3 separate regions of the Homo sapiens genome follow, and all the other regions are linked to region 3. Evidence: fine-mapped expression QTL. A gene starts in region 3. Each other region holds a variant in brackets. All regions are shown on one strand. Distances are from middle to middle.

Evidence for each region. PIP is the estimated chance that this variant, and not a neighbour inherited with it, causes the effect. A credible set is the group of variants that fine-mapping cannot tell apart.
Region 1: its variant is the best candidate, but not a certain one, in a credible set for the expression of NEK4 in whole blood (TOPMed, PIP 0.79).
Region 2: its variant is the best candidate, but not a certain one, in a credible set for the expression of NEK4 in sun-exposed skin (GTEx, PIP 0.80).

What each region holds. Positions count from the first base shown.
Region 1 is chr3:52,977,330-52,987,417 of GRCh38, forward strand. The region is part of intron 1 of SFMBT1 (Scm like with four mbt domains 1); the gene reads right to left. Among named protein-coding and RNA genes, the nearest start is that of SFMBT1, 64 kb to the right of the region's middle. The variant T/C (reference allele first, on the strand shown) is at 4,924.
Region 2 is chr3:52,493,693-52,503,780 of GRCh38, forward strand. It overlaps STAB1 (stabilin 1), which reads left to right and starts at 1,646. Exons shown (of 69, transcript NM_015136.3): 1 at 1,646-1,799; 2 at 7,474-7,610; 3 at 7,946-8,061; 4 at 8,314-8,399; 5 at 8,467-8,536; 6 at 8,940-9,035; 7 at 9,307-9,417; 8 at 9,652-9,848; 9 at 10,080-10,088. The coding sequence starts at 1,722. The variant G/A (reference allele first, on the strand shown) is at 4,600.
Region 3 is chr3:52,766,836-52,776,923 of GRCh38, forward strand. It overlaps NEK4 (NIMA related kinase 4), which reads right to left and starts at 4,105. Exons shown (of 16, transcript NM_003157.6): 1 at 3,819-4,105; 2 at 1,503-1,769. The coding sequence starts at 3,911. RefSeq lists enhancers at 3,882-4,399, 4,187-4,236 and a silencer at 3,917-4,026.

The DNA of each region.
Region 1 (10,088 bases), 210 kb after region 3:
GAAACCCAGTTTCTACTAAAAATACAAAAAGATTAGCCAGGCCTAGTGGCGGGCGCCTGTAATCCCAGCTACTCGGGAGGCTGAGGCAGAAGAATCGCTTGAACCCAGGAGGCGGAGGTTGCAGTGAAGCGCACCACTGCACTTCAGCCCAGGCGACAGTGTGAGACTTCGTATCAAAAAAAAAGGAAAAAGAAAAAGAAAAGAAAAAACTGGAAACCTCAGGGTCAATCAATACATAATGGCACATCCACAAGATGAAAGTTAAAAAGAGTAAGACAGCTTAGTAAGCATAAAGTTCATGCTGGGGTGATGAAATAAGCTTTGGATTTGGATAGTGGTTTTATATAGATGTATACATATAACCTATATCTACATAAAACTGAACAAAAACAAAACTACGTATTTCTATAGGCACACATATATATGTGCAGATACCTTTAACGTGGTCAGGAAGAATACATCCAAATCATTAACAGGAAAGTGAGATTCAGGGGCAGGGCAAAAGGGAGTGTTTCTTTTAACAGTATTGGGTAAACTTTTTAAGATAAAAATGTACTCATATGTTTACTTCAGTGATTTAAAATTTTAAGACAAAAAATGCATTTATTGACATGGAAAGCTATTTATTCATTCTTTCAATAAATATTTACTGGAAACTTATTATGTGTCAGGCACAATAAAAAAAAATTAGAGATATATCAGTGAAGAAAACAGACCAAAATCTCTGCCCTCATGAAGCTTATATTTTAGTGTAAGGAAGAAAGTATAATACTTTTTCTAAATGTCATAAGTGATAGAGCTGGGGAGGAATGACAGTGTGGGGTGGTTAAATCGGGTAGAGAGAAAGGAGGTTTCACTGAGAAGGTAACATATGGACAAAGACTTGAGGGAGCTACAGAAGGAAAGAGCATGCCAGGCAGAGGGAAAAGCCAGCAGAAAGGGCCTAAAGGGAGAGCATGTGAGAGTGAGCTATGTTCTAGGAATAGCAGGGAGGCCAGGGTAGTTGGTGCCAAGTAAGCAAGCAAGAACAAGTAGAAGGAGAAGAGGCAGGAGAGAGGTCAACTTCACACTGCCTGCCACTCCCATGTACCTCTGTGAGTACCCCCCACCTACAGCCCTTAAGGAACTATACTTACCAGGTGACCCTACTCCTCTGGGGGTAACAAAACGTAAAGGCAATGTTGGTGGGAATGTAAAATGATGCAACCACCTGGGAAAACAGTCTGGCAGTTCCTCAGTGTTAAACATAGAGTTACCATATGGGCCAGTATTTCACTCCTCAATATATACCCAAGACATTTGAAAACATATGTCCAAACATAAACTTGTTCATGAATGTTCGTAGTATTATTTATAATAGTCAAAAAATAGAAACAAATCAAATGTATCAACCAATTAATGGTTAAGTAAAATGTAATATATCTAATATAATGGAATATTATTCAGCCATAAAAAGAAATGAAGTACGAATACATACTACAACAAGGATAACCTTGAAAATATTGTACATGAGAAGATAGACACTAAAGGCCACATATTATACGCTTCCATTTATATAAAATGACCACAGAGGCAAATTCACAGAGACAAGTGGGTAGATTGTGGTTGCCAAGGGCTGGTAGAGAAAAGGTAATGGATAACGACTACTAATATGTACAGGGTTGCTTTTGGGGGTATTAAAACATTCTAATATTAGACTGTGGTGAGAGTTGTACTATTCTGTGAATAAAAAAACTGTAAACTTTAAATAAGTGAGTTTTATGGTCTGTGAAATATATCTCAGTAAAACTATAAAAATGGTACTTATATTCAAGGACATAACTGTGCTTTTAAATAACATTTCAAATACAGAAGCCAATGACAAAAAAAAAAGAGACAAGATATCTGGGTTACCCTTAGGATATGCAACAGAAGGAGAAAGAAAATAATTTGGCTGTTACTGGTTTGTATCAGTTAAGGTAATGTTATGCTTTAACAGATAAATTTCTATTTTCAATTGCTTAATCCAACAGATATGTATTTCCCACTCAGATGAAGTCCAAACAGGTGTTCCTAATCAGTAGGCAACTCTCCACCATGTGATTATTCATGAAGCCAAAAGCCTTCCGCCACATAGCTCTACCACCTTCAACAAAGTCTTCACAAATCATTCACTGTAGGGGATCACACATGGGAGGTTTTCATGGGACAGACCTAAAAGTGGTACGTCCCTTCCACCCACATTCCACTAATTAAAATCCGGTCACAAGACCCCATCCAACTACAAAGGAAGCTGCAAACTACAGTATGGCACTTCCCACCATTAGTAACAGAGTGCTTAAATTAGTATTGCCATTCACCAGAACTTATATTAACAGTGAATAGCAGTTATTCTACTTAAAGGAGGCTTCATGAATCAATAGTAGTGATACTATGAACAGTCATGGAATTCTGTCAATAAATATTTACTGAGCACTTATTATCGCCACACCACATTTGTTCTAGGTGAAGAAATATTTTGAAACCTGCCCTCACGAATCTCATAATCTAAAGTGTGTAGATAGCCAGCAATAAAATAAATACAACTGAGCCTTGAACAACATGGGCATTAACTACATGGGTCCACTTACAGATTTTTAAAAATAACTATCTTGGAAAAATTTTTGGAGATTTATGACAATTTGAAAAAACTTGCAGACAAACCATGTAGCTTAAAAATATCAAAAAATTAAGAAAAAGGTGTGTTGTGAATGCATAAAATACATGTACCTATTAGTCTATCATTTACCACTTTTATATACAAATCTATTATTAAAAGTTAAAAAATATCAAAACTTATACAAACACAGACTGTACATGGTGTCATTCCCAGTCCTGAGAAATGTAAACAAACCTAAAGATGCAGTTTTACATCATAACTACACAAAATTAAGTGTAGTACATATTGCATCATTTGCAATATGAAATCATTTTGCAGCTATCTCCTGTTGCTATTGCCTTGAGCTCAAGTGTTGCGACTATCTCCGTAAAATGCTGTATGACACTAATCATCTCCACGTGGGCAATTCGTCTCTCCAGTAAAATGCATAAATAATATCACAATAAAAAGTGATCTCCCATGGTTCTTACACATTTTTCATGATGCTTAGTGCAGTACTGTATTTAATAACACCGTAAGACCCATAGAAAGTACCGCTAGAGATGCTGGACGTGCTTTCAAGAAGCAGAAAGAAGTGGTGACATTATAAGAAAAAGCTGGATTGCTTGATATGTACAATAGATTGAGGTCTACAGCTGCAGCTGCCTCCATTTCAAGATAAGTAAATCCAGCACAAGGACCATTGTTTAAAAAAAAAAAAAAAAAAGCAAAGGAAATTTGTGAAGCCATCACTGCAGCTACGCCAACAGGTGCAAAAACCTCGCATTTTGTGTGAATTATGTTTTTATCTCATGTTGAAAATGCAGCTTTTATGTGGGTGCACGACTGCTGTAGAAAGGCATACCTATAAACTTTCATATGATTTGAGAAAAAGCAAAGTCATTATATGACAAAGCAAAAGAAAGGTGAAGGAGTCCGGTCGCGGTAGCTCACGCCTGTAATCCCAGCACTTTGGGAGGCCGAGGCGGGTGGATCACCTGAGGTGGGGAGTTCGAGACCAGCTTGACCAACATGGAGAAACCCCATCTCTACTAAAAATACAAAATTAGCCGGGCGTGGTGGCACATGCCTGTAATCCCAGCTACTCGTGAGGCTGAGGCAAGAGAATCACTTGAACCTGGGAGGCAGAGATTGCAGTGAGCCAAGATCATGCCACTGCACTCTAGCATGGGCAACAAGAGCGAAATTCCATCTCAGAAAAAAAAAAAAAAAAGGTGAAGGATCTAAAGCTGGAGGATTTAATGCCAGCAAAGGATGGTTTGATAATTTTAGAAAGTGGTTTGGCTTTAAAACTTTAGGAGGAGAAGCAGCTTCTGCTGACCAATAGGCAGCAAATGAGTTCCCCAATGCCAGTTAAGAAAATCATTAAGGAGAAAGGATTTCCACCTGAATAGGTTTCTGTGGAATTTTTTTGAGACAGGGTCTTGTTCTGTCACCCAGGCTGGAGTGCAATGGCATGAGCTCGGATCACTGCAACCTCCACTTCCTAGGCTCAAGCAATCCTCTCACCTCAACCTCCCTAGTAGCTAAGACTACAGGCATATGCCACCATGCTCAGCTAATTTTTTTTTTTTTTTTTTTTTTACTTTTCTGCAGAGACGAGGTCTCACTACATTGAGCAGACTAGTCTGAAACTCCTGGGCTCAAGCAATCCTCCCACCTTGGCCTCCCAAAATGCTGGGATTTCAAGAATGAGCCACTGCACCCAACCTGAACAGGTTTTTAATGCTGATGAAAGTGCTCTATTTTGGGGGAAAATGTGCTACAAAGGACATTAATTAGTAAGGAGAAGAAAGTACCCGGATTTAAGGGAGGAAAGGATAGGCTAACTTGACTATTTTGAGCAAGTGCAGTTAGGTTTATAATCAGGACAGCCCGCTAACCCCCACGCCTCGAAGGGAAAAGATAAAAGCCAGCTGCTAGTTTTTTGGTTGTACATTAAGGCCTGGACAAAAAGAACCCTTTTTCTGAACTGGTTCCATCAATGATTTGTCCCTGAAGTCAGGAAGTACCTTGCCAGTAAGGGTCTGCTTTTTCAAGTTCTTTTGATATTTGACAATGCCCCCAAGCCACCCATGAGTTCAACTCACCCCATGAGTTCAACACCAAAACTGGTGAAGGGCGTCTACTTGCTCCCAAACACAATGTCTCTAATTCAGTCCCTAGATCAGGAGCTCATAAGGGCCTTTAAGGCTCATTACACACATTCCTTTATGGAAAGGACTGTCAACACTATGCAAGAGAACCCTGATAGAACATCATGAAAGTCTGGAAGGATTACACTA[T/C]TGAAGATTCCATTGTTATAGAAAAAGTCCTGAAAGCCATCAAGCCTGAAACAATAGACTCCTGCTAGAGAAAATTGTCCAGATGTCCTGCATAACTTCACAGGATTGACAACAGAGCCAATCACAAAAATCATGAAAGAGGTTGTAGATACGGCCAAAAAGGTCGGAGGTGAAGGGTTAAGATATAGATCATGGGCCGGACGCGGTGGCTCACGCCTGTAATGCCAGCACTTTGGGAGGCTGAGGCGGGCGGATCACTTGAGGTCAGGAGTTCCAGACAGGCCTGGCCAACAAGGTGAAACGTCGTCTCTATTAAAAATACAAAAATTAGCCGGACATGGTGGCATATGCCTGTAATCCCAGCTACTCAGGAGGCTAAGGCAGGAGAATCGCTTGAACCCAGGAGGCGGAGGTTGAAGTAAGCTGAGATCGCGGCACTGCACTCCAGCCTGGGCGACAGAGCAAGACTCCCATCTCAAAAAAAAAAAAAAAAAAAAAAAAGATATAGATCGTGGAGAAATTCAAGAGCTAATAGATAGCACACCAGAGGAATTAACAGAAGACGACTTGATGGAGATGAATAATTCCAAAACCAGTGCCAATAAAGAAGAAGATGTAGAAGAAGCAGTGCCAGAAAATAAATCAACATTGACAATCTGGCAGAAGGGTTTGGATTACTCAGGACTGCTTTTATGACAAGATCCCTCTATGATATGGCACTGAAACTAAAGCAAACAGTGGAAGAGGAGTTGATACCATATAGAAACAGTTTTAGAGGAAGGAAAAAGCAAACATTCAGACAGAAACTATAATGTTATTTCTGAAAAGTTACACCACGTGTACCTGCCCCTCTTGCCTTCCTTTCTGCCTCCTCCCCTCTTCCACCTGTGGCACCCTAAGACAGCAACACCAACCTCTCCTCTTACTCCTCCTCAGCCTACCCAACGTGAAGATGACAAGGATGAAGACCTTTATGATGATCCACTTCCACTCAGTGAAGAGTCAATATTAATATATTTTCTCTTCCTTATGATTTTCTTTGTAACATTTTTTCTCCAGCTTACTCTATTGTAAGAAAACAGTATGTAATATATAACATATAAAATACGTGTTGATTGACTGCTTATGTTATTGTGGTAAGGCTTCTGGTCAACAGTAGGCTATTAGTAAAGTTTTTGAGAAGTCAAAAGTTATATGCAAATCTTCAACTGCGTGTGGGGTCAACACCCCTGTGTTGTTCAAGGGTCAACTATAATATGTATGTTGAATGAAAACAAATGTTAGGAGAAAAAAACTGAACAAGGGAGGAGGACAGGGAGTCCTACTTTTAACAGAGTGATCAAAGCCTTAGTGTTGAGGTAACACAAAACAACACCAGAGGGAAATGAGGAAGTGAGCCATGTGGGTACGTGCGGAAGAATATTCAAGGCAGAAAAACAAAAAGAGCAAAGTCTCTGAAGTGGGAGCTTGTGTGGCGTATTTGAGGCCACAGTGGTTGGAACAAAATGATCACAGCAGAGATGCTAGGAGATGAACTCAGGAAGCTATCAGGGAGTCATATTTTATATGAACTTGCAGGCTGCTGTGAAGATTTTGGCTTTGGGGAAGCCATTGAAGGATTCTGAGCAGAGGAGGAACATAATTTGATTTATCTTTTAAAAGGATCACTCTGCAGCTATGTGAGAAGAAAGCAAGAGCAGAAGCAGGAAGACCAACTAAAAAGACCACAGAATAATCCAAGTGAAAGGTGTTGGTGGCTAGGTCTAGGACAGGAGAAGTGAAAATGTGGAGGAAGATGTAAGATGGATTTGGTGTATGAGAGAAAGAGCAGTATCTGGGCTGACTGAAGTTTCTGGCTTAAGCAACTGGAAGGATAGAACTGCCACTTATGGAAAAAGGGAAGTCTGAAGTAGGAATGGTTTGAGGAAGAAAAATTATGATGAGCTTCAGTGCAAAATAGGGCAATATGATTACTTCCCTCACCACTAAAGGTTTGTTCTTGGAGTTTTCAGGAAAATGTTTTCAATCAACAAAAGTATAATTACTATCTGTGTAGTGTCTCCAATTTATAAGCTTTTTTTCACCCACGATGCTTCATTTGAACATCATAAAAAACTTTTTTAGACAGCAAGAATGGGGCCAATTCTTTTTTTTTTTGCCCCTTGGGAACCTCCTTGTTGGCTTCAATCCCATCTTACATTTCACGTTCTCTAGGTTTACCAATCAGCCTTGAAGGCATTTCCCCATAGCAATTCAGTAATTTATGCTGCCTTGTTTTTTAACATTCCAATTTCAACACCCACATACTTTCCAATACAGGCACTTCAATGACAAATTTTCTAGCTTTCTTTAATGTATGTCTTTCAATAATCTCAGGCATAAATAATCTTTAAAAATTCATACTATAATGAATACTATATTGAATATAGGTAATATATATTATTATAATATATACTGAATACTATACTAAATACTGTGTGTGTGTGTGTGTGTGTGTGTGTGTGTGTGTGTGTGTGTCTATTCATACTATAATGATTCATACTATAATGAGTTTGGAAATATCAGGCTGACCACCCTATAAATCCCTGGTCCACAGTTGGCTAAGTATGACCACTTCGCAGCCCGGCTTCCTTAGCAATTACTGATTAGTACCAGGATATTGAGCACCTCCTCTTTGCCAGATACCAAGACGACTAAATTGCAGTTTTGAAATTATCTTTCACTGTACCAGAATATGTCAAAAGCATTTAAAATCATTCTTTATCCTTATATTATCTTATAGGCTGGAACGGTAGCTCTTCCAGAGTTCAAATATGATTACATTTTCATCAATTAAATGCTTTATTTATGGGAGCCAGTAACATGAGCACATGTTGAAACAGTATGTCTTTGTTCTGATTAAATCAGGAGCTATTTGATTCACCAACACAAGCACTGTCAAAACATACCAATTCCAATAGTATTATAAAAAGATTATAGGAAAAGACCATGTTCAGTTATGAAAAGACTTGAAATTATTCTGTAATTTCATGGTTGCTGTTTCTCAGCTTTCTCATGTCAAGTCACAGATCAGAAACTTCATCTCAACAGAACAAATGCTTGTTAACCATTTATCAAGAAAAAAGAAAAGATTATTTGAGTACCTACTATGTATGTGCCTGGCACTTTTTATGTATTGTATACTAAATAATTAGGCACACAGAACACTGTCCAACACATGGTAAGCTTAATATTTAAGTGTTTATTATTTTTTAATAATCTTTTATTTAATCCTATTCTGCTTAACTCATACAATGATAATTCCATTTTACAGATGAGGAAAAGTTAACATGTCAGTTCATACACAGTCATGCATCGCTTAATAATGAGGATATGTTCTGAGAAATTTGTTGTTTGGCAATTTTGTCATTATTCGAACATCATAGGGTATACTTACGCAAACCTAGATGGTGCGGCCTACTATACACCTAGGCTATACGGTGTAGCCTATTGCCCCTAGGCTACAAACCTGTAGGCAACTGTAACACAATGGTAAGTATTTGTGTATCTAAACATATTTAAACATAGGAAAGGTGTAGTCAAAATATATCATAAAAGATAAAAAATGAGGCCAGGCGAGGTGGCTCACGCCTGTAATCCCAGCACTTTGGGAGGCCAAGGTGGGCAGATCATTTGAGGTGAAGAGTTTGAGACCAGCCTGGCCAACATGGTGAAACCCCGTCTCTACTAAAAATACAAAAATTAGCTCGGTGTGGTAGTGGGCGCCTGTAGTCCCAGCTACTCAGGAGGCTGAGGCAGGAGAATTGCTTGAACCTGGGAGGTGGAGGTTGCAGTGAGCTGAGATCATGCCACTACACTTCAGCCTGGGAGACAGAGTGAGACTCCGTCTCAGGAAAAAAAAAAAAAAAAAGATAAAAAATGGAACACTTATATAGGGCACTTATCATGAATGGAGCTTGCAGGACTGGGAAGTTGTTCTGGGTGAGTCAGTCAGTGGTGAGTGAATGTGAAGGCCTGGGATATTACTGTATACTACTGTAGACTTTCTAAACACTGCACATGTAAGCCACATTAAATTTGTTTTAAGAATACTTTTCTTCCTTCCATAATAAATTAACCTTAGCTTACTGTAACTTTATAAACTTTTTGATTTTTAAAATTTTTTTGACTTTCTTGTAATAACACATAGCTTAAAATACAAACACTGTATAGCTGTACAAAAATATTTTTTTGGTCGGGCGCCATGGCTCACGTCTGTAATCCAATACTTTGGGAAGCCGAGGTGGGCAGGTGACCTGAGATCAGGAGTTTGAGACCAGCCTGGCCAACATGGCAAAATCCCATCTCTACTAAAAATACAAAAAAAAAACTTAGTCGGGCAGGCATGGTGGCAGGTGCCTGTAGTCCCAGCTACTCGGGAGGTTGAGGCAGGGAAATCGCTTTAACCTGGGAGGTGGAGGTTGCAGTGAACCGAGATCGCGCCACTGCACTTTAGCCTGGTGACAGAGCAAGACTCTGTCTCAAAAAAAAAAAAAAAATTAGCAGGGTGTGGTGGCGAGTGCCTGTAATACCAGCTACTCAGGAGGCTGAGGCAGGAGAATCGCTTGAACCCGGGAGGTGGAGGTTGCAGTGAGCCGAGATCGTGCCACTGCTCTCCAGTCTGGGCGAAAGAGTGAGACTCCATCTCAAAATATATATATTTTTTCTTTATATCCTTATTCTATAACTTTTTTCTATTAACTTTTTATTTACTTGTTAAAACTTTTTGTTAAAAACTAACACAACAGCCTAGGACTACACACGACCAGGATCATCAATATCGTTGTCTTCCACCTCCACATCCTGTCCCACTGGAAGATCTTCGGGAGCAATAACATGCATGGAGCTGCCATCTCCTTGATAACAGTGCCTCCTTCTGGAATACCTCCTGAAGGACCTGTCTGAGGCTGGCTTACAGTTAATTTTTTTTTAATAAATAAAAGGCATATACTCTAAAATAATGATTTAAAAGTACAGTAAATAAACCACAGTTATATATTATGATCAAGTATTATGTACTGTACATAACTGTATGTGTTATGCTTTTATACAACTGCCAGTGCAGGTTTATTTACACCAGTACCACAACAAACACGAGTAGGTATCTCACTATGACTTTAGGATGG
Region 2 (10,088 bases), 270 kb before region 3:
GGATTTTGGTAGCCAACCCCATGCCACACTCTTCCCCAACCCCATTCCTGCTGCCAGAGCAGGGCCTATGAGCCCCACATAACTCATCCTGGCCCAGCCAGGAGCCTCAGTCCCCAGGACCTTGGGGCAGCCAGGCCAGGCAGGGCTGTGGAGAGGTGGGTGGCGTGGCCAGCCTGGGTCCCAGGCCTGCTTCTGTTCCCCCGTTTCCCTTGGTGCCAGCAGAGTGGGGGTCCTGCCTGGAGGACCCTTCACCCCCAGGAAGACTGTGGGTGTGGGGAATGTGGGGAGGGTTTCCCCTTGCAACCCCCATCCCAGCCAGATCTCAGGCCTGCCTGAAGGCCCCTCCAAACTGATGGGAGTGGAGGTGTGCTGGGGAGGAGAAACTTTCCCCAACCTGGCCTTTACCAAAGCATTTACAGATGGCCACCGGGCTCTGGCCCACTCCTGTCTCCCCAACTGTTACGCCGTCTGCAGTTGGGGGTAGTGACAACTGGAGGCAAGGCCCACCACGTGCAGCCCTGGCACGCAGAGGCCCTCAGCCTGGGCCCACTGCACCTCTTGGGGGTGCTGGCTGTGCAGGCAGTGGTGGCTTCAGACAGTAGCCCTGGGATTGGATATGAAAACTGATTACCTCAGACAAGCTACCCAGCCCCTCTGAGCCTCAGTTTCCCCACCAGTAACAGAGGGATCATAAAAGTAGCCACCTCCATTCATTTATTCCTTCTGCACACGTGTATTGAGCATCCACTGTGCGAATCAGCCAGACAGCGCCCCTACTCTTCCACAGCCAATGTTCCAGGGGAGACAAATGAAACAAGCCAATGTCAGCTGGTGGCTGGTGCTGCCAGGTGAACCAGGTGCAGGGCCACCTGCAGGCTGAGACCAGGGAGGCGCTCTGAAGTGGTGGCCCTTGACCTGAGACCACCTGTGAGAAGGAGCCAGAGTGTGACAATCTAGGGTAGCAGCACATGCCGGGAGAGCTCACTGAAGGAGCAGAGAGGCCTGCGCGGCTGGAGCAGACCTGTCTGGGGAGAGTTCAGAGAGACCAGCCAGCTGGAGAGGGGTTTGGAGGTGCTGCAGCAAGCTGGCTGAGCATGGGCTGCTGAGTGGAGGGCAGATAGGGAGGCAGGGAGGGTGGATGGGGGTTGGCGGGCAGGACCAGCGGCTCAGGAGTGGCTGGGGCTAGTGAGGGGATGTGGGTCTGGTGGGCTAGCAGGGTGCCTGTAGCGAGTCAGAGCCCCATGAGCGCCCTGGAGTTGGAAAGGTGGAGGCAGGAACAGACAGACCCATTCAGGGGCTGCCCTGCCTTCCGCCGACCAGCACCCCAGGAGCCTCTGAATGAAACACACTGGGCTCGCAGGCGGGGGACTCGTTCACGTGTGCCTTTGGATTTGCTTCAGAACCTCTGATAGAGCCCAGGTCCCGGGGCTCATGGTGGCCTGGACTTCCAGGTTGTGATGCCAGGAGGGTCCCAGCCGGGAAGCCCCGAGCAGGGCTCAGGCCGCCCATGGGGGGTCAGTGGCCAGCACCTTCCCTTCCGCCTGCAGGCTGCTGATATGCAGGAGGAAATCCTGGCGGGTTCCTGTGGGGGTGAGCTGGCGGGGCCTCCGGGCTGCTTTTAAGGCCACTGCCCGCCCCGTCCCGCCTGCCTGTGCTGTGCCTGCCTCCTAGAGCTCATTCCCTACGCCCCGACTCTGTCCTGGACAGCGTGCCCACCAGCCATGGCGGGGCCCCGGGGCCTCCTCCCACTCTGCCTCCTGGCCTTCTGCCTGGCAGGCTTCAGCTTCGTCAGGGGGCAGGTAAGTGTGAGCCAGTCGCAGGGGCACACGGCGTCTGGGCCCTGCCGGCCAGCGGTGGGAACAGGGAGGGACTGACATGGAGGGGCAGGGGCCTGGGGAGAAACCGCAGCTGGCGCCTGTCTGGCCTCTTAGCAGGCCTGGGGGCTGGCTATTGTGCCCACCTCCCCAGTCTGAGGTCTGCGTCCAGCCACCCAGGGTTCAGGGGTGTGTCAGCCCACCCTCCTCTGACTATGCGGGGCCGGGGCTCCCCAGCGTGCAGCTGAAGTGTACAGAGGCAGGCCTGTCCTGCCCTTCTGGCCCAGACGGAGGCCCAGGTCTTATGTGGCCCTCACCTGGGGGTTGAAGATGTGATCACCTCCAACCCCCGAGGACTACAGATTCACGTGGGGCAAGTGTGTGCACATGTGTGTGCCTGTGTCCAGCCCCAAGAGTACCGGGAAGCAGAATGAGTCACTCACCCTTAGTGTCCGGGGTTATGAGCAGCTGGCAAGGACACACTTCAGCCTCAGAGCTGCCACAGAGCAGCCACAGCCCCGGGCAGGTCCCCTTGAATCCTCACAGCCTCGGGGCAACTCCTCCTGTCCTCCTCGTGAGGAACCCGAAGCCCTAGGATGATGGGGACAGGCCATTCCCACTCTAAAGCCATGCTCCAAACCCCTGCCTGTGATGGCCATCCGTGTGTGCTGGCGAGCAGACAGGGTCCTGGTATGCAGCCACAGCCAGCCCCTCGGTCAGGTCCCTGTGACAGGCTCCTGGCTGCAGGTCTGCTCAGGCCCCATGGTAGGGGCCTCTGGGAGCTTCTGGAAGAGCCTCCCACCCTGGTGATGGGGGTAGTCTCTCTCCTGTGAGGCTGAGCGTGTCTGCCTCCTGGAGCAGCAACCACTATCCCCATGGCACAGATGGCCAGACTAAAGTCCAGAGCGGGGAGGACTTGCCCAGGATCCCACAGGCAGTCCAGCCAGGGGCCTAGGCCCCCTGCCACCATCAGGCGCTTTCTCTTGGATGCCTGTGGTCCCTCAGAGAGGCAGCAGGGAGAAGGGCCTCACCAGCTTCAGGACCAGGCCAGGGCTGGGGACAGGAAGATATGAGGCTGAGAAGGCGACAGTGATGGGGGAAGAGCCAAGGGTTCCAGGGCTGTGCTGAGAGCCCTGCAGGTAAGCTCCTGCCCTCCCCTTAACTCAGTTTCCCCCTGTGTACCATGCAAGGGAATTTCAAAGGCCTCCGCCACCTCCTCATGCTCTGGGCAGTGAGGACAGAGGTCAGTGAGGGGCCTCAGATTCGAGTTTTTTCCTTGTCAGAGACCTATGGCTCTGACCACTCCTTGTGGATGGGGCTGCAGCAGTGCTGGCCACTCTAACACAGCTACGTGGCCTCTATCCCAGCACCCTGCATAGCCGAGAGCCACTGTAAGTGCAGTTGGCCCTCTGTATCTGTGCACCCTGTACTTGGGTTCAACCAACCCTGGATTGAAAATATTCAGGAAATAAAATGGCATCTCTACTGAACATGTTCAGACTTTTTTTCTTTTGAGGTGGAGTCTCGCTCTGTAGCCCAGGCTGGAGGGCAGTGGCGTGATCTCGGCTCAGTGAAATCTCCACCTCCCAGGTTCAAGCGATTCTCCTGCCTCAGCCTCCCGAGAACTGGGATTACAGGCGCCCGCCACCACACCCAGCTAATTTTTGAATTTTTAGTTTCACCATGTTGACCAGGCTGGTCTGTAACTCCTGACCTCAGGTAATCCACCTGCCTCAGCCTCCCAAAGTGCTGGGATTACAGGTGTGAGCCACCGTGCCCAACCCCATGTTCAGACTTTTCTATGTACATAGCATTTACATTGTATTCGGTATTATAAGTCGTCTAAGGATGACTTAAGGTATACGGGAGGATGTGCATAGATTATATGTGAATTCGATGCCTTTTTTTTTTTTTTTTTTTTTTTGAGATGGTGTCTCTCTCTGTTGTCCGGGCTGCATTACAGTGGCGCTATCTCAGCTCACTGCAACCTCTGCCTCCCAGCTTCAAGGGATTCTCCTGACTCAGCCTCCCAAGTAGCTGGGACTACAGGCGCACACCACCACACTTGGCTAATTTTTGTGTTTTTATTAGAGACAGGGTTTCTCCATGTTAGCCAGCCTGGTCTCGAACTCCTGATGTCAGGTGATCTACCCTCTTCGGCCTCCCAAAGTGCTGGGATTACAGATGTGAGCCACCACTCCCAGCCTCGATTCCATTTTATACCAGGGACTTGAGCATCCACAGATTTTGGTATCTGAGGAGGGTCCTGGAACCAGTCCCCCATAGACACCAAGGAACAACTATATTAGGAGTGGAAGCTCTGAGGGGAAAGGATATCCCGGGTAACCTGTTCAGTAAGGGCAGCAACAGGACTGGAGTGAAGATGGGTTTGGGCAGCGAGGCAGGAAGGCTTTCCTGGAAGGCCCTTAGCACTTGCCCATTCAGCAGCTTTTCACCGAGGGCACGTGGCTAGGTGTGTGCAGTGGAGCCTGTGGCGGGAGAGGAGCACGGTCCAGAACCCAGCCCTGCACCCTCCCTGATCTGACCAAAGGTAGGGGGAAGCAGTTTGGGGTTCCTTCCTCTCTGACAGGGTTTAGATTCTGGGCTCTCAGCCTTAAAAAGTCCCCATGAACCAGGTCCCAGCTTGGGAGAATTTCATCCACCTTCTCACCAAAGACTTCACACTTCGTGTCTCCTCAACTTCCCCCAGCAGCAGCTCTGTGGGAAGCAGACATTGCAAAATCAGGTCTGCGGGGGGTGTGGGGTTGGGGGGGAGACAGCACCC[G/A]CTCTGGCTCAGTCCCGAGGTGCCCCCAGGAAGGAGGGAATCTGACTCAGCACTCAGGCCGTGATCCAGCCTCACTCCACCCAGCTGGACCAACGGCAAGATGTGGGCTCAGACCGCCGATGCTCCTTCCAGGCCATGGGGCGGAGGCAGGGCCCCTCGGCTGTGGTCTCGGAGAAGCACTGATGTGGCAGCAGGCTTACCATTCATCAGCATTTCACACACGTTTACAAACACCCAGGTCCTGTGAGTGAGTGTCCACACCAGGCCCCAAAGCTCCCGCTTCCTTCTGGGCCCTAACTCACCCATCGCTCCATCTAGCCCTGACTGTCTCAGAGTGCGACCAGCACAGTCTTACTCAGCCTGAGCCCTTATCCAGAGCTGACCACCATTCCTCCAAGAGCTGGTCCACAGCCAGAATGGTGACCGCGCTGGCAGCTTTGCCCAGCTGGCCAGGTGGCTTTGAGGGGAGCCCACCTCCTGCCAAGCCTCTACCCTGAGCCAGCAGCTGCTCAGCCCTCAAGTTACCCAATTTCCTAGTCTCTCCCTGGCTCAGCAAAGGCGAGCCTCAGGATGGGGAACGAGACCACAACATCCCAGCTCCGCCGTTCAACACAGGCTGCTCTGAGCAACTTCCCTGTTTGCAGACCGCAGAGGCATGAGCGGAAAAGGCCAAATCACGGTAGCACAGAGGCTCTGGGGCCCTGGTATTTGCCATAAGAAAGTGTCAGGGGCACCATTTCTCCTTTTCTCTTGCTTTGAGAAGCCACACATCTGTAAATTATTCCAGGAAAGGGATGTTCTGGGGTCACTCCCTTTGGACCACAGTGTGGTCAGCATTTTTCAAGATGAGAACATCTCCACTTCTCTGGGCCATGCCCAAAGCCTCCCAAACACCTCCCCTCCAACCTATGCCCCTTCCCTATGCCCCTTCCTCCCACTAGAACTGGGAGTTTAGCTTCACGCCTCCTGGTTCAGTGCTGAAGGTTGCTGGGACTTTGTTGCCGTAGAAGGCTGGTGGACTTCCAGGAGCTATGGCAGGCCAGTGAATGGGACTCCAGGCCTGGGGCTTTTGTCAGCATCCTTGTGCCCATGCCGTGGTGGCAGGCTGGACTCCTCACATCTTCCACGCCCCACCCAGTTGCTGAGACCTTCTCCCAATTCATCTCACCACCCCAAGCCCTCTCAAATATCTCCCAATCCATTTCCACTGTCCCTGCCTTGGCCCAGGCCACCTTCAGGTAATGATGGCCTCTTTCCCACCACACCTGCCCCTGCGACTGTATTCTCCATGCAGCAGCCAGAGGGCCAATTTAAAACAAACTGGCCGGCCGGGCGCGGTGGCTCACGCCTGTAATCCCAGCACTTTGGGAGGCCGAGGCGGGCGGATCACGAGGTCAGGAGATCGAGACCAACCCCGCTAAAACGGTGAAACCCCGTCTCTACTAAAAATACAAAAAATTAGCCGGGCGTAGTGGCGGGCGCCTGTAGTCCCAGCTACTTGGGAGGCTGAGGCAGGAGAATGGCGTGAACCCGGGAGGCGGAGCTTGCAGTGAGCCGAGATCCCGCCACTGCACTCCAGCCTGGGCGACAGAGCGAGACTCCATCTCAAAAAAAAAAAAAAAAAAAAAAAAACTGGCCAGGCACAGTGGCACATGCCTGTAGTCCCAGCTACTCGGGAGGCTGAGGCAGGAGGATCGCCTGAGCCCAGGAGTTCAAGATTACAGTGAGCTAGGGTCACACCACTGCACTCCAGCCAGGGCGACACAGCGAGACCCTTTCTCAAAGACAAAAAACCATAAACTGAGTCATGGGGCTGCCCTGGACTCTGCCTCACCCAGGTTTACGGAGCTCCTGCACCCCAGCTGCCAGCCCCTCTCCAGCCTCCCCTCGGGCCACTGCCTGCCTTGTCACACATTTGTTTTTACTTCTTTCCACTCCCGGCCTTTGCTTCTGCTGTCCCCTAGGCCAGGAGCACTGTCCTTGACCAATTCTCATGCATCCTTCAGGTCCCAAGTCAATGACCACCTCCCTCAGGAAACCACCTGGGGCCCCAGCCAGGATGCCCTGGGTTTCCTCAGAGGCTGGCATGGCCCGTTGTCTCCTGTGACTGCCCAGCCCAAACACTTGCAGACCAGAGTCCCTGCACACAGCTGCTCACGTGAGCCCAGCCTCTCAGGGCCAGGGCCCTTAGTCTCTGATTCCTGGGCAGCGGAGAAAGCCCTTGCGCTTGGTTAGAGAGGGTCATTTGGTAGCAACGTGGGAAAATGCTCAGAGCAGAGTGGTGGCTGGAGGTCCAGCCCCACGGTGCATGGCTGGAGCCGGCATCGTGCCTGTGCCCATGAGTTGAGGATGGAGTCGCCGTGTCCTCCCAAGACAGCATCAGCTCTGTCATTTATTGTTTCTTTATCTTTAAACAAAAGGCAAAAGTGAGCACTAGGCTGGGAATCTGGGTTTAGTCCCTGGTTCACACCCTGTTCATGGATGAGATTGGGTAGCGGCCATGTCCTGGGCTTCAGTTTTCTCACCTGAAATGGGCTTGGGGGAGCAACGTGGCTAGATTCTCTAGTGTCAGAGGGTGTGGACTCAGAGCCTTCTGGGCCGGGCACATAAGGACTCGATGTGACATTAACAACTTGTAACAGACAGGTTTCACAGGGCCTTCCCCATCTGCACTGCATTCCCACTGAGCGCCCCCAGGGCATTCTGTGGACCCCCAAAGAACTCAGCTCTGTGCCCAGAACCCTCTGCTTACTCTGACCCCTGAGCAGATGGGAAGTGGCAGCTGGAGGGGTGTGAGCCCTTGCAGCACTGAGGACAGGGTCAGGACTGGGCGTGGGGTCCAGGCCCCTGACCACACCCTGCCTGTGGCCCCAGGTGCTGTTCAAAGGCTGTGATGTGAAAACCACGTTTGTCACTCATGTACCCTGCACCTCGTGCGCGGCCATCAAGAAGCAGACGTGTCCCTCAGGCTGGCTGCGGGAGCTCCCGGATCAGATAACCCAGGACTGCCGGTGCGGGCCACCCCTGTCCTTGCCTGTGTCCAGGAGCATCCTGTGGGGTGGCAGGGACTCGGGGAGCCTGACAGGCCCACAAAATGAGGAGAAGCACTCACTTATCCATGCCCCTGTGGCCCCACCTGGGTGGTGGAGATAGGCGGGGAGGAAGGGGTAAAGGCGAGGGGCAGGAGGGGTTTATGGGGCACCTGCTATGTGCTAGGCCCTGTGCTCAGCTCTGGGCCAGGCAGAGCAGGGAGGTGGGTGGGAGCCCCGGAAGCCAATGTGGGGAGGCTGGGTGGGGGCTGTGCAAGGGAGCCTTTTCCATCACCCTGCCCACCCTCTGCCCCCAGCTACGAAGTACAGCTGGGGGGCTCTATGGTGTCCATGAGCGGCTGCAGACGGAAGTGCCGGAAGCAAGTGGTGCAGAAGGCCTGCTGCCCTGGCTACTGGGGTTCCCGGTGCCATGGTATGGGAGAAAGGGGGACCCCGCCTTGCGCCTCCCACCCAGCCCCAGCTCTGGGCAAGCCCTCTGCAGGAGCCACCTGCATTCCCCTTCAACTTGTTTGTTTAATTAATACTCACCGAGCGCCTCCAAGGCTCGGCCCCCTTGCTCTTGCTTCCTTGGGGGAGGGGCCGAGTCTGGGGTTGGCCAGAGCTGCTGGGGTCAGGGTAAGCGGAGGGTTCTGGGCACAGAGCTGAGTACTGTGGGGGTCCACAGAATGCCCTGGGGGCGCTGAGACCCCATGCAATGGCCACGGGACCTGCTTGGATGGCATGGACAGGAATGGGACCTGTGTGTGCCAGGTAAGGGCTGGGCAAGGTGGGGTGGAGGCTCAGAGGGGCCACGCTGACTTGGTGCATCCACCACCAGGAAAACTTCCGCGGCTCAGCCTGCCAGGAGTGCCAAGACCCCAACCGGTTCGGGCCTGACTGCCAATCGGGTGAGTGCTTAAAAGGCAAGAGGGCACGGCCAGCGTCCACCTGGGGGCCCACGCAGATGCAGTACCTACAACCAGCTCCCACCTGTCCCTTCAGCCTCTGTCCCAGCCCCTCAGATTTGCACATCCCTTTCAGGAACATGTGCTTTGTTTTATCACACCTCCAGCCCTTTGCACATGCTACTCCCCTGAGAGGCCTTCTCCAGGAAGCCCTCTGTGAGCCCCAGGCCGGGCCAGTGCCTTCTGTGGTCTCCCACCACCCCTGTGGTCCCGCATCACAGCTCTGTACTCTTAAGGTTGTACCTGCCCGAGCTGAGTTCTAAAAATACAGAGAGCAGGGACCCGATGTCCCAGTGTGTGCCTGGGAGAGGCTGGGGCCCCATCTGTCTCTGTGTGTCCCTCCCAGTGTGCAGCTGTGTGCACGGAGTGTGCAACCATGGGCCACGTGGGGATGGAAGCTGCCTGTGCTTTGCTGGATACACTGGCCCCCACTGTGATCAAGGTGAGCAGCGCCACTGGGATAGCCTAGGGCAGCAGGTCCCTGTGGCCAGAGCAAAAGAGGCCGACTGGGTGAGGATGGGGCCTGAGCCTCAGCAGGACCTCCGCCTGGAGCCTAGTTGGGGAAGGGGTGTCATCTGAGACCTCCACTGTCCAGAGGCCCAGCAAGGTCAGGGCCCTGCTCCAAGTCACACAGAACAGGCAAGGCCCCTTTGCCCCTGTGTTCCTCCCCAGCCTGGGCTTGGGCTCATCAGTGCTCTCTCCACTCTGCGCAGAGCTGCCCGTCTGCCAGGAGCTGCGCTGTCCCCAGAACACCCAGTGCTCCGCAGAGGCTCCCAGCTGCAGGTGCCTGCCCGGCTACACACAGCAGGGCAGTGAATGCCGAGGTGAGCCTGGACTCAGAGGCCAGGGACTTCAGCTCAGGGCGGGCGGGGGCTGGGAGAGCATCCTTTAACCCAGCAAGTGCAATGTAATTCACAAGGAGGGAGAGCCATTCCTAAGGGGAGCCTATCCTCAAGGCCTAGGTCAACCTGCTGGCCCCGGCCTTCCTGGTGAAAGCTGTGGCGGAGACAGGGCTCCTGGGTGCTTGGCTCACTTGGGCTCTCTCTCTGCCCTGGCAGCCCCCAACCCCTGCTGGCCATCACCCTGCTCACTGCTGGCCCAGTGCTCGGTGAGCCCCAAGGGGCAGGCTCAGTGTCACTGCCCTGAGAACTACCATGGCGATGGGATGGTGTGTCTGCCCAAGGACCCATGCACTGACAACCTTGGTGGCTGCCCCAGCAACTCTACTTTGTGTGTGTACCAGAAGCCGGGCCAGGTGAGCCAGGGTCCCAGGCCGGAACTGTCCCCACAGTGCACCCAAACACTGGCTATGGGACCCTGGGCAAGTCACAGGCCTTCTGGTAGCCTCAGTTTCCCCACTTGTAAAGTGGGGAGAGGATAAGGGTCCTCTTCAGGGAGGGGCTGAGCAGGGCTCTATGGGTAGGGCAGACACCAGTGGTTCTTGGGGTTGGACGTGGTGTTCCCCTCCTGCCCTGTCGGGGGCCAGGCCTTCTGC
Region 3 (10,088 bases):
ATTAGCCGGGCGCAGTGGCGGGCGCCTGTAGTCCCAGCTACTCGGGACGCTGAGGCAGGAGAATGGCGTGAACCCGGGAAGCGGAGCTTGCAGTGAGCCAAGATTGCGCCACTGCAGTCCGTAGTCCGGCCTGGGCGACAGAGCGAGACTCCGTCTCAAAAAAAAAAAAAATATGTTTACAGGCCAGGCGCAGTGTTCAGCAGTTTGGGAGGCCGAGGTGAGCGGATCACTTGAGGCCAGGAGTTCAAGACCAGCCTGGGCAACATGGCAAAACCCCATCTCTACTAAAAAAATACAAAAATTAGCTGGGCATGGTGACGCACGCCTATAATCCCAGCTACTTGGGAGGCTGAGGCACAAGAATCACTTGAACCCAGGAGGTGGAGGTTGGAATGAGCCACGATTGTGCCACTGCACTCGAATCTGGGCGACAGTGACACTCTGTCTTAAAAAAAAAACAATGCTTACAAACTCCACTGATGGTAGGACAACTTATACAAAGTCAGACGCACAGTCCTCTCAGACCCATGAAATCCTCAGCTTAATAATATTTTCAAGTACAGCAAGAGCATTTTTATTTAGAGAAAGTATCTCAGCCGGGCGTGGTGGCTCACGCCTATAATCCCAGCACTTTGGGAGGCCGAGGCAGGTGGATCACCTGAGGTCAAGAGTTCGAGACCAGCCTGGCCAACATGGTAAAACCCCATCTCTACTAAAAATACAAAAAAAAAAATTAGCCAGGTATGGTGGCAGGCGCCTGTAATCCCAGCTACTTGGGAGGCTGAGGCAGGAGAATCGCTTGAACCTGGGAGGTGGAGGTTGCAGTGAGCCGAGATCGTGCCATTGCACTCCAGCCTAGATAACAAAAACAAAACTCCGTCTCAAAAGAAAAAAAAAAAAAGAGAGAAAGTATCTCAGAATTTAAACATGGTCAATTAATTCTGGACAAGTCTACCCAGTTCCAAAATAGTATTTCATAAACGTCTCGCTTTTGAGTTATATGCATATTAAAACACAAACTTGTAGGAACACTTATTCCATCTTAAGGAATGATGTGCTGCCCAATTCTAAAAAATAAAAAAAAGAAAACTTGTTTTGCATTCCCATCTACTGTACCCCAGCAGACTGACAGATGAAATCACTGGGCATATCAATTAGCCTAGCCACCTTTCAGCATGACACGACTGACCAATGGATAACAAACATAGTCACTCTATGCTCTTGGTTGCCTCAGGGTCCTTAAAATTGACTTTGCTATAAATGGTAATTGAGTGGGCTTCCCCTGCAATCAGACATGAAATCTATGTCTATTTTAATATAGGTATCACTTACTTAGAAAAGTTCCAATGCTACAGAAAGAGTGACTGGGTCAACTTCACAAATGAATTTTCCAAAAAATACATTTCTATATGTAAGTATCTGAAGAAAAATTTTCCTAAAATACACCTGCCATCTTCTTGCCATCTGGGAACAAGCTAGGATGCTATTAGTCTACACAGTACCTGCAAAGCCATGGCGATCTGTACAAACCACTCTACCACCTGATTCTCAGGCAGAAGCTGCCCTTTCTGCTCCTTGAGCTTTCGGTACAAATCACCTCCTTCACAGAAGCCCATGACAATGTAGAGCAGACCATCTCCTCCTTCCCATGACTCCTTGTAGGTGACAATGTTGGGATGCTTCAACTGAGACAAGAGCTGGGCTTCCTGTTCAGCAGCTCGCCGCTCTCGGCTAGAGGCATTTCGGAGGTTCAGTTTTTTGATGACATACTAAAAACAAACCATGTATTTTTACAATGTGCAAATAAACGTAAGATTTGTGGCCTCAGAGTTATCTAAGGGCTCTCAAGAATACCCTCAAAACCAACCTTGTGGAGCCTGTCAGATAACCTATTCATTTTGTTTTTCACCAAGCACAAAATCGGGGAAAATATTTGCTATTATTGATACTTCTTATAAGTTAGATTTATAGCAGTGTAGGGCCACAAAAATTACCTTTCCCATCTGCATTTCACAATTTCATTAATGACTAAAAAAAGTGAGTTCAAGATAACATACCATTGGATCAATTATAAAACCTGTGTTAGCAATTCCTTAATATCTGGCCATACACAGTGGCTCACACCTGTAATCCCAGCACTTTGGGAGGGTGAGGCGGGTGGATCACCTGAGGTCAGGAGTTCAAGACCAGCCTGGTCAACATGGTGAAACCTGTCTCTACTAAAAATACAAAAATTAGCCCGGCGTGGTGGTGTGTACCCATAGTCCCAGCAACTCGGGAGGCTGACACAGGAGAATTGCTTGAACCTGGGAGGCAGTAGTTGCAGCAGTGAGCCAACATCGCACCACTGCACTCCAGCCTGGGAGGCAGAGCAAGACTCTGTCTCAAAAAAAATAAAAAATAAAAAAAGAAATTCCTTAATATCTAAGCTCTCCCAAAAAGGTGAATAAAATATAGCTTGACTATACATTTGCAGACAGAATAGTCTGTGGATTACGTTAGATACTCAAAGGGATCCATGGCCCCATAAGTTTAATAGTCACTGATCTTCAGCATACAAAATTATTCACACTTAAAAGAAATCAATAGCCTCTAATACCTAATACATTGCCCTCAATCATTTCAAAGACCATACAATTCATTTCTTCAACACATAGATAAATGTGTTTTGTGAAGTGTAAACTAAAGCTCAAATAACTAGCTATTGCTAGTTCCCTATCATCAGCCCCAAAATCCAATGATTCCCCCAATGCCTACTGAATAAATTTCTTATGCATGAGCTTGTGTTCCACGCAAAGCAACTAGCACCAGAGACAAGGAAGAACAGGCAATTGGGCCCTATATTTAGGGGGAACATCTCTTCTCAGCTTGCCTGGAGCAGTCCTACTGTCCTGGTGTAACTATTAATAATGCCTTTCAGTTTCAAAATTGTCCCAGTTTGTACATTATATTGTCACCCTATTAATAAACCACATTGAATAATTGGTTCATTATCCTGAGAGTAATGGGATAAAGTGTTTTAAACAGAGGAGTGACAACATCAGATTTAAATTTGAGAAAGATCACTGAGGCTGCAGTGAAAGTGATGGATTGGAGAAAAGCAAGTCAAGTGGCGGCGACCAGTTGGGAAACCGTGGCCATAGCTTTGCTAGAGACAACAGGGTGTCCTGGATTGGGGTGGTAGCAGTAGAGATGAGAGGAGGCCTATTGTCTTAGTGATAGATGAATATAATCAGTGTTGGGGTGCGTGGGGAGGCTTAAAAATGACTCCAGGTGTCCGGCTTGGGCAACTGGTGGGTTGGTGTCACTATTCACTGAAACGGAAGACATGAGAGAAGGTTTGGCGGGAAGAAAATGAGTCGAGTTTTAAGTGAATCCAGCAGTCTACAGTAGAGACGTTTGGGGCCCTTCATTCAAGGAATAATGCTTGCTAGGCGCTGTATTAAGTCCTGGGAATGCATGATACCGGCTCTCATGAGAGTATCGGGGTTGGGAGAAAGGTGTGTAGATCACGCATGCCAATTAGTACAACAAAGAAGTAGATAGGCAGAGACTGAAAATTTTTACATAAAACTTAGAATTGTAATTAAAGAAAATGAAAATTAAAAGGAAAAAAATTTAACACAACAAAGAAGTAGAAGTAGTTCTGGGCGCATATTACAGGGAGGCCAGGCCTCGTCTTGGTCTGGGACCATTTCCCTGAGGAAACGCCATCCGAGATGAGCCTCTTGCGACCACCCCCGACCTAATCTACCGGTCGGCGCCCTCGGCGCACTTCTGCCCGCCCCCGCCCCTTGCCGGGCCCCACCCCTGCAGACCTGCTTGCCGTCCCGCCGGTGCTTCACAAGCGTCACCTCTCCATAGCTCCCCTTGCCCACGACCCGCAGGTAGCAGTAGGCGGCCAGGGGCATGTTCCCAGCGCTGGCCCAGAGTCGGGATGCGGCGGCAGCGGCGGGTAGGGCAGCGGGCGGCAACAAGAAGCTCGGTTCATGCCCGAGAGGGGGCAGTGGGGGCGGCTGTTGAGGCAGCCGGGCCCGGGCGGGATTGCTGGGGCCCGGCCCGCGACGACGCCGCTGCCATAGCGATCCGGGCCGGGAGCAGTTCTGCGCATGCTCCTGCGTCCCCAAAGGACGGCCATAGAGCGGACGCCACGAGCGGCCAGAGAGGTTCCGCAGCCCCGGGAGGACCCGCCATAGAGCAGAGGCTCCAGGAGGCCAGAGCGACTCCGCCAGGCTCCGCGCACTTTCTGTGCGTCCGTTCCACCGTCCGGATCCCCGCCACAACAGAGTCAGGGAAAGCTTCCTCTTTTTGTGCACTTGTTTGTCCTAAGGCCGTTACAAGTATTGTTCGTTCATTCTGCAAATATTTGTTGACCGCCTATGTGCCAGGCCAACAAAGTCCCTGCCCTCCTGGAGCTCATGTTCTAATGACTGGGTGACAGACTCTCTACCAGTAACATTTGCTGTATCCGCTTTATCACATGCCGTCTCTGCATCCAGCAATCCATCCTATTTTTTGATACATTCAAAGTAAATTATCAGTACCTTTCATCCCTAAAAACTCGCCTGCTAATTGAGAACTACAAAGACTCCTCAGCATTTAACGACTACCCTAACCACTGCACTAAGAGACTTGACTAAACTCTAACATGGCATCATGCTAAGTTAACAGCCTAAGGGCGGATCTCTAGGTGGGCCTAGGCCCCTTTAAAATGCCTGCCCAAGAAAGCTCAGGGGTGCCAAAAGAATTCACCATTTGTTCCAGCCAAAGCCTCCCTTTCCCAGAGCGCTTCCTTTTTTTCCTTTTTTTTTTTTTTTTTTTTTTTTGAGACAGGGTCTCGCCCTGCCACCCAGCTTGGAGTGCAGTGGTGCAATGGTGCTCACTGCTGCCTAGACTTCCTGGGCTCAAGCCATCCTCCCAACTACAGGCACACACGTCCATGCCTGGCTAATCCTATTTTATTTTTTTTCAGAGACAGGGTGTCACTATGTTCCCCAGACCGGTCTTGAACTCCTCGGCTCAAGCAATTCACCCACGTTGGCCTCCCAAAATGCCGTTATTACAGGTGTGCGCCATCGTGCCTGGCCTCTTTCCTTTTTATGGCCAAATAATATTCCATTATATGTATACACCACAATTTGTTTATCCATTCATGCAGTCATGGACACGGATAGCTTCCATCTTTTGGCTATTGTGAATAATTCGGCTATGAACATGGGTGTACGAATATCTGTTTGAGTCCCTGCTTTCTTTTTAATTCATTTGGGTATACACTCAGAAGTGAAATTGCTGGATCATATGCTAATTCTAGTTTAATGTATTGAGAAACCACCACACCATTTTTTACAGCAAGCTGAACCATTTTACATTCCCATTAGCAATCCACAGGGGTTCAAATTTCTCCTCATCCTTGATATATATCTTGATAGGAGATTTGGGTGTATGAATTTGTCAAAATTATCTAATGGTACATTTAGTATTTGCACATTTTACTCAAAGCAATTTCATCTTCACTAGAAAACCAAACAAAAAGAACCATAAATAAAGATTGAACTCTAGTTAATGATATTATTAAAGATAAACAAAGCCAGGCATTAAAATGATGAAAATAGATTTTATTCAGTAACTACTGACAGTAGGGGAAGCAGCTGAACTCCATTCCATTTGCGCAGGGGTGATTGGGCATTCCAAAGGAAGAATAAGGGAGTAGGCAGGGGAGCATGCAGGGGCTCACTTAGAGTCTGGGAAGTGAAAAATTAAAAGGAGTGCTTAGCGTAAATGTGATTAGGCCAACTGTGTCTGCTAGCTGGCAATTAGGGAAGTTAGGATTCTATTCTCCCACATAGACTGGGAGACATGAGCCCTACCTTTATGATGATTACATTCCAAAGGAATGGATTTCAGGTCCTTGAGAAAGACATTCCTAGGTTGTAGGAAATACATAGGTATATATCTCAGAGGGACAGAGGAAGGATTTGTAATTGTAGCTTTTTAAAGTTAGTGCTCTAGAGGCCACACACTATGACTCACACCTAATCCCAGCACTTTGAGAGGCCAAGGTGGGAGGATCACTTGAGACCAGCCTACGAAACACAGTGAGACCCCCTTCTCTACAAAAAATTTTTAAAATTAGCTGGGTGTGGTGGCGCATGCCTGTAGTCCCAGCTACCTGGGAGGCTGAGGTGGGAGAATCAGTTGAGCCTCGGAGGTTGAGGCTGCAGTGAGCCATGATCCTGCCACTGCACTCCAGCTGAGTGACAGAGTGAGACTCTGTCTCAAAATAAATAAATTTTTAAAAAGGAAGGATGTTCTGACATGCTACAACATGGACGACCCCTGAGGACATTATGCTAAACAAAATAAGGCAGTCACAGAGGACAAAAGTATGATTTCGCTTATGTGAGGTACCTGTAGTAGTCAAAGTCATAGATTCAGAAAGTAGAATGGTGGTTGCCAGTTGTTGGAGAGAGGAGGGAATTGGTGGTTGGTGTTTAATGGGTGCAGAGTTTTAGCTGGGGAAAATGAAAAAGTCCTGGAGATGGATGGTGGTGATGGATGCAAAACATGAATGTACTTATGCCACCGAACTGTATTCTTAAAAATGGTTAAATAATAAATTTTATGTTTTGTATATTTTACCACAATAAAAAATTATGGCACACTGCTCCTGTAATCCCAGCTACTCAGGAGGCCGAGGCATGAGAATCACGTGAACCCGGGAGGCGGAGATTGCATTGGGCCAAGATCATGTCACTGCACTCCAGCCTGGGCGACAGAGCAATACTCCTTCTAAAAAAAAAAAAAAAAAAAAAAACCTATCATTCATTCTACAGACATTTAGCAAGGGTCTACTAGCCTGGACCTGGAGGACAACTATGAACAAGACAGACAAGGGCCTGCCCATGTGGGGCTTACTGTCGAAGAGGGAGACGGCCATGCATACTAACAAGCTACCCTTGCCAACTGAGGTCAGTACTGTTCAGAAAAGCCGCCAGGCCCAGCCTGGCCATCCAGGAGAGGTTGCCCCAAGCAAGCACCGCATGAGTGGAAGTTTAAACAAAAACTTTTTCAGGCAGAGGAGCAACATGTGCTAAGATCCAGTGGATTCATTTTGTGACTTTACCTCCACACCGCAATGTGAACTCCCTGAGGACGAGGCCAGGCCTGTCTGCTTCAACACCCTAAACCCAGCAGGTATAAATGAAGGAATTGCCGCTTGCTGAATGAATGAATGGAGAAGCACCTGCCTACCTGGATCTAAAAGAAGTCTCTGCAGTTGAAGCTGAGAGACTCAGAGGGGCCATGGGCTAGGTGACATAGAGGGGTCAGCAGGGGCCATACCACTCAGGATAGGGTGTGCGAGACAGGGAAAGGCCTGCGGCAGACTGACCTTTCTAAATGGTGACTCTGGCTGCTGCCTGGAGCAGAGCAGAAGGAGGAGATGAGCCGTCTAAATGAGGGATGAGGGCAGCTTGAACTAGGTGGTGACGGGGGATGGGGAGAGAAGTTAATGGATTAGAGGGATATTCAGAGGGTGGGAGGTGGGGTAGGTGGTCAAGGAGACTGAGGCACCCAGGATGCCACCCAGCCTTCTGGCTTGGATGGCCAACTAGATGGCGGTGGCCTTGACTGGAGTGGACAACAGGGGGAAGATCTGGCTTAGTAACGGGGTGTGGGGAGGAGGAGACAAAGGTCAGGAGTTCAGTTTGGACATACCAGATGGAGGGGCTGTGGGCACATCAAGCAGACAGTTGGCTGTGTGTGGGTGGCGCTCAGAGCAGGTCTGGGCCCATGTGCTGTCCCACCGGCACCAGCAGCACAGCTACACTCCCCATTCTCAATCCTCAGCAACCATAGCTGCTTTCTGTCCACCCTGGCCCCCACCTCCCACATGCATATGGTGGGCCAACGTCTCTTTCTCTGTACCATGAGGATAATAGTAACAATAATATCTGTCTCTTGTGGGGAGTTGTGAGCAGTAAATGAATTCGGACGTGATGCTAAGAAGCATGACAGGCACAGGTCATAGTTAGCTCTCCCCATCTCCTGTCCACCCTCCCCCTGTGCAAACATGCTTCTAGCACTTTACATGGACCAGGCTTGGTGCTAGCCATCTCTCAACAGCCCAGTCTTGAACTCATCACACCCTTGCTTAAAATATCTTAAGTATCTCCCACCCAAAAGGCTAATCACTTTCAGACCCCTGCGCCAGCTGGTCCCAACCCCCTTCCCAGCCACCTTCCCTACCCTCTTCATCAGCTCCTGCTCCCATCCCAGACACCTCTACCTTCCCACAGCATACATCCCACCTGCCCGTCTGCTTTTCTCTCCCTCCCTTCCCGCCTTCCCCTTCCCAAGCACTGCTCTTTTTTCCAGGCACCTCATCCAGGAACCTTCTCCTAATCCCTGCAGGAGATGAGCCTCTGCCCCTCCAAATTTCTATCTCTTCAGCTTCTCATCACTCCTTGGGATTCAGTGGGCTCCCTTTGACTTGTCTGATTCCCTTTTCCCCTGACATCAGCTCACTGAACACAGCAGGGCACTCAGGTTTCTGTATGGTGGCCTCTCAGTGCCTGGCATTGTGCCCAACACACTGCAGGGCTTGGTCGATACTGGTGCAGGAAATAAGCAGAACTTCAAATGTACACTGTCATGTCGATCCAGCTTCTCTTCTACAAAGGCCAGAAGACAGGCCAGAAGGTGACCGTGGCCTAAGGACAATAAACTCTTCCCAGAAGCTGCTCTGTGAGACAAAGTCCAGGACAAGCAAACAGAGATCAGTGAGGGCTCTGGGCCCCCTCCTCTTATCAGGGTCACAGCAGCCAGCACATCCCAACCCAGGTCACAGACTAGACTGGCCAGGGGCCCTGTCTGCCCAGTATGCTGTGGTTTTTGGGGAACAGGGTGGGTTTGGCAATAAAAAAATAAGAAACTGCAGGTGCAAGATGGGTCTCTGGGAACTCCTGTCTCTAGGATCTTCAAGTCTGCTTCTCTGTCATTACATGATGGCCTTGGGCTTTAGAGCCTGAGAGACCTGGTTTGAATCCCTGTTCTGTCTCTTGGTATGGGGCCAGTGTCCCAGGAACGTTGCGAGGATAAAATTAGACAATAAAGGGTTTAGAGGAATGCATGACACAAATGAGTCCTCGATTATGAAAACATGTCATTCATCTTCAGCTCCCCTTTATCTGCCAGGCCTCCCTGCCCAGGTGCAGGAACGAGGAAGCTCACTTCTGTTCTTTCTAGAACTGGGTAAGAACCTCAGAGAGGTGAAGCAACTGGCCTAAAGCGCAGATCTCCCATCATGCCTCACCCCGACCGTCCAGACTGTCTCTGACAGAGCTAATACCAGGTTAGCACTGTGAGAATCACCAGCATGGCTGGATGTCACACACTTTCTAAGCCACCGTGTCTGCCTCCCTGGCCAAAGCATGACTGAAAAGTGTGTTGATGCTGAAAGAATTTTGAAACAGTCTGGGCAACAAAGTGAGACCCTGTTTCCCTCCCTTTCTTTTCTTTTTTCTTTTCTTTTCTTTTCTTTTTTCTTTTCTGTTCTTTCTTTCTCTGTCTCTCTTTCTTTTCTTTTCTTTCTTTCTTTTTGGAGACAGTCTCGCTCCGTCACCCAGGCTGGAGTGCAGTGGCACAATCTTGCCTCTCTGCAACCACCACTTTCCAGGCTCAAGCTATTCTCCTGCCTCAGCCTCCTGAGTAGCTGGAACCACAGACGCATGCCACCATACCTGGCTAATTTTTGTATTTTTGGTAGAGATGGGGTTTCACCATGTTGCCCAGGCTGGGCTGGAACTTCTGGCCTCAAGTGATCTGCCTCCCTCAGCCTCCCAAAGTGCTGAGATTACAGGCATGAGCCACCTCGCCCGACTGAAACCCTGTTTCAACAAAAAATAAAAATAATCAGCTGGGTGTGGTGCCACATTCCTGTGGTTCCAGGTACTCAGAAGGCTGAGGTGGGAAGATCAGTTGAGTCTGGGAGGTCGAGGCTGCAGTGAGCCAAGATCGCACCACTGTATTCCACCTGTGCGATAGAGGGAGACCCTGTCTTAAAAAAAAAAAAAAAAAAGAAATTTGAA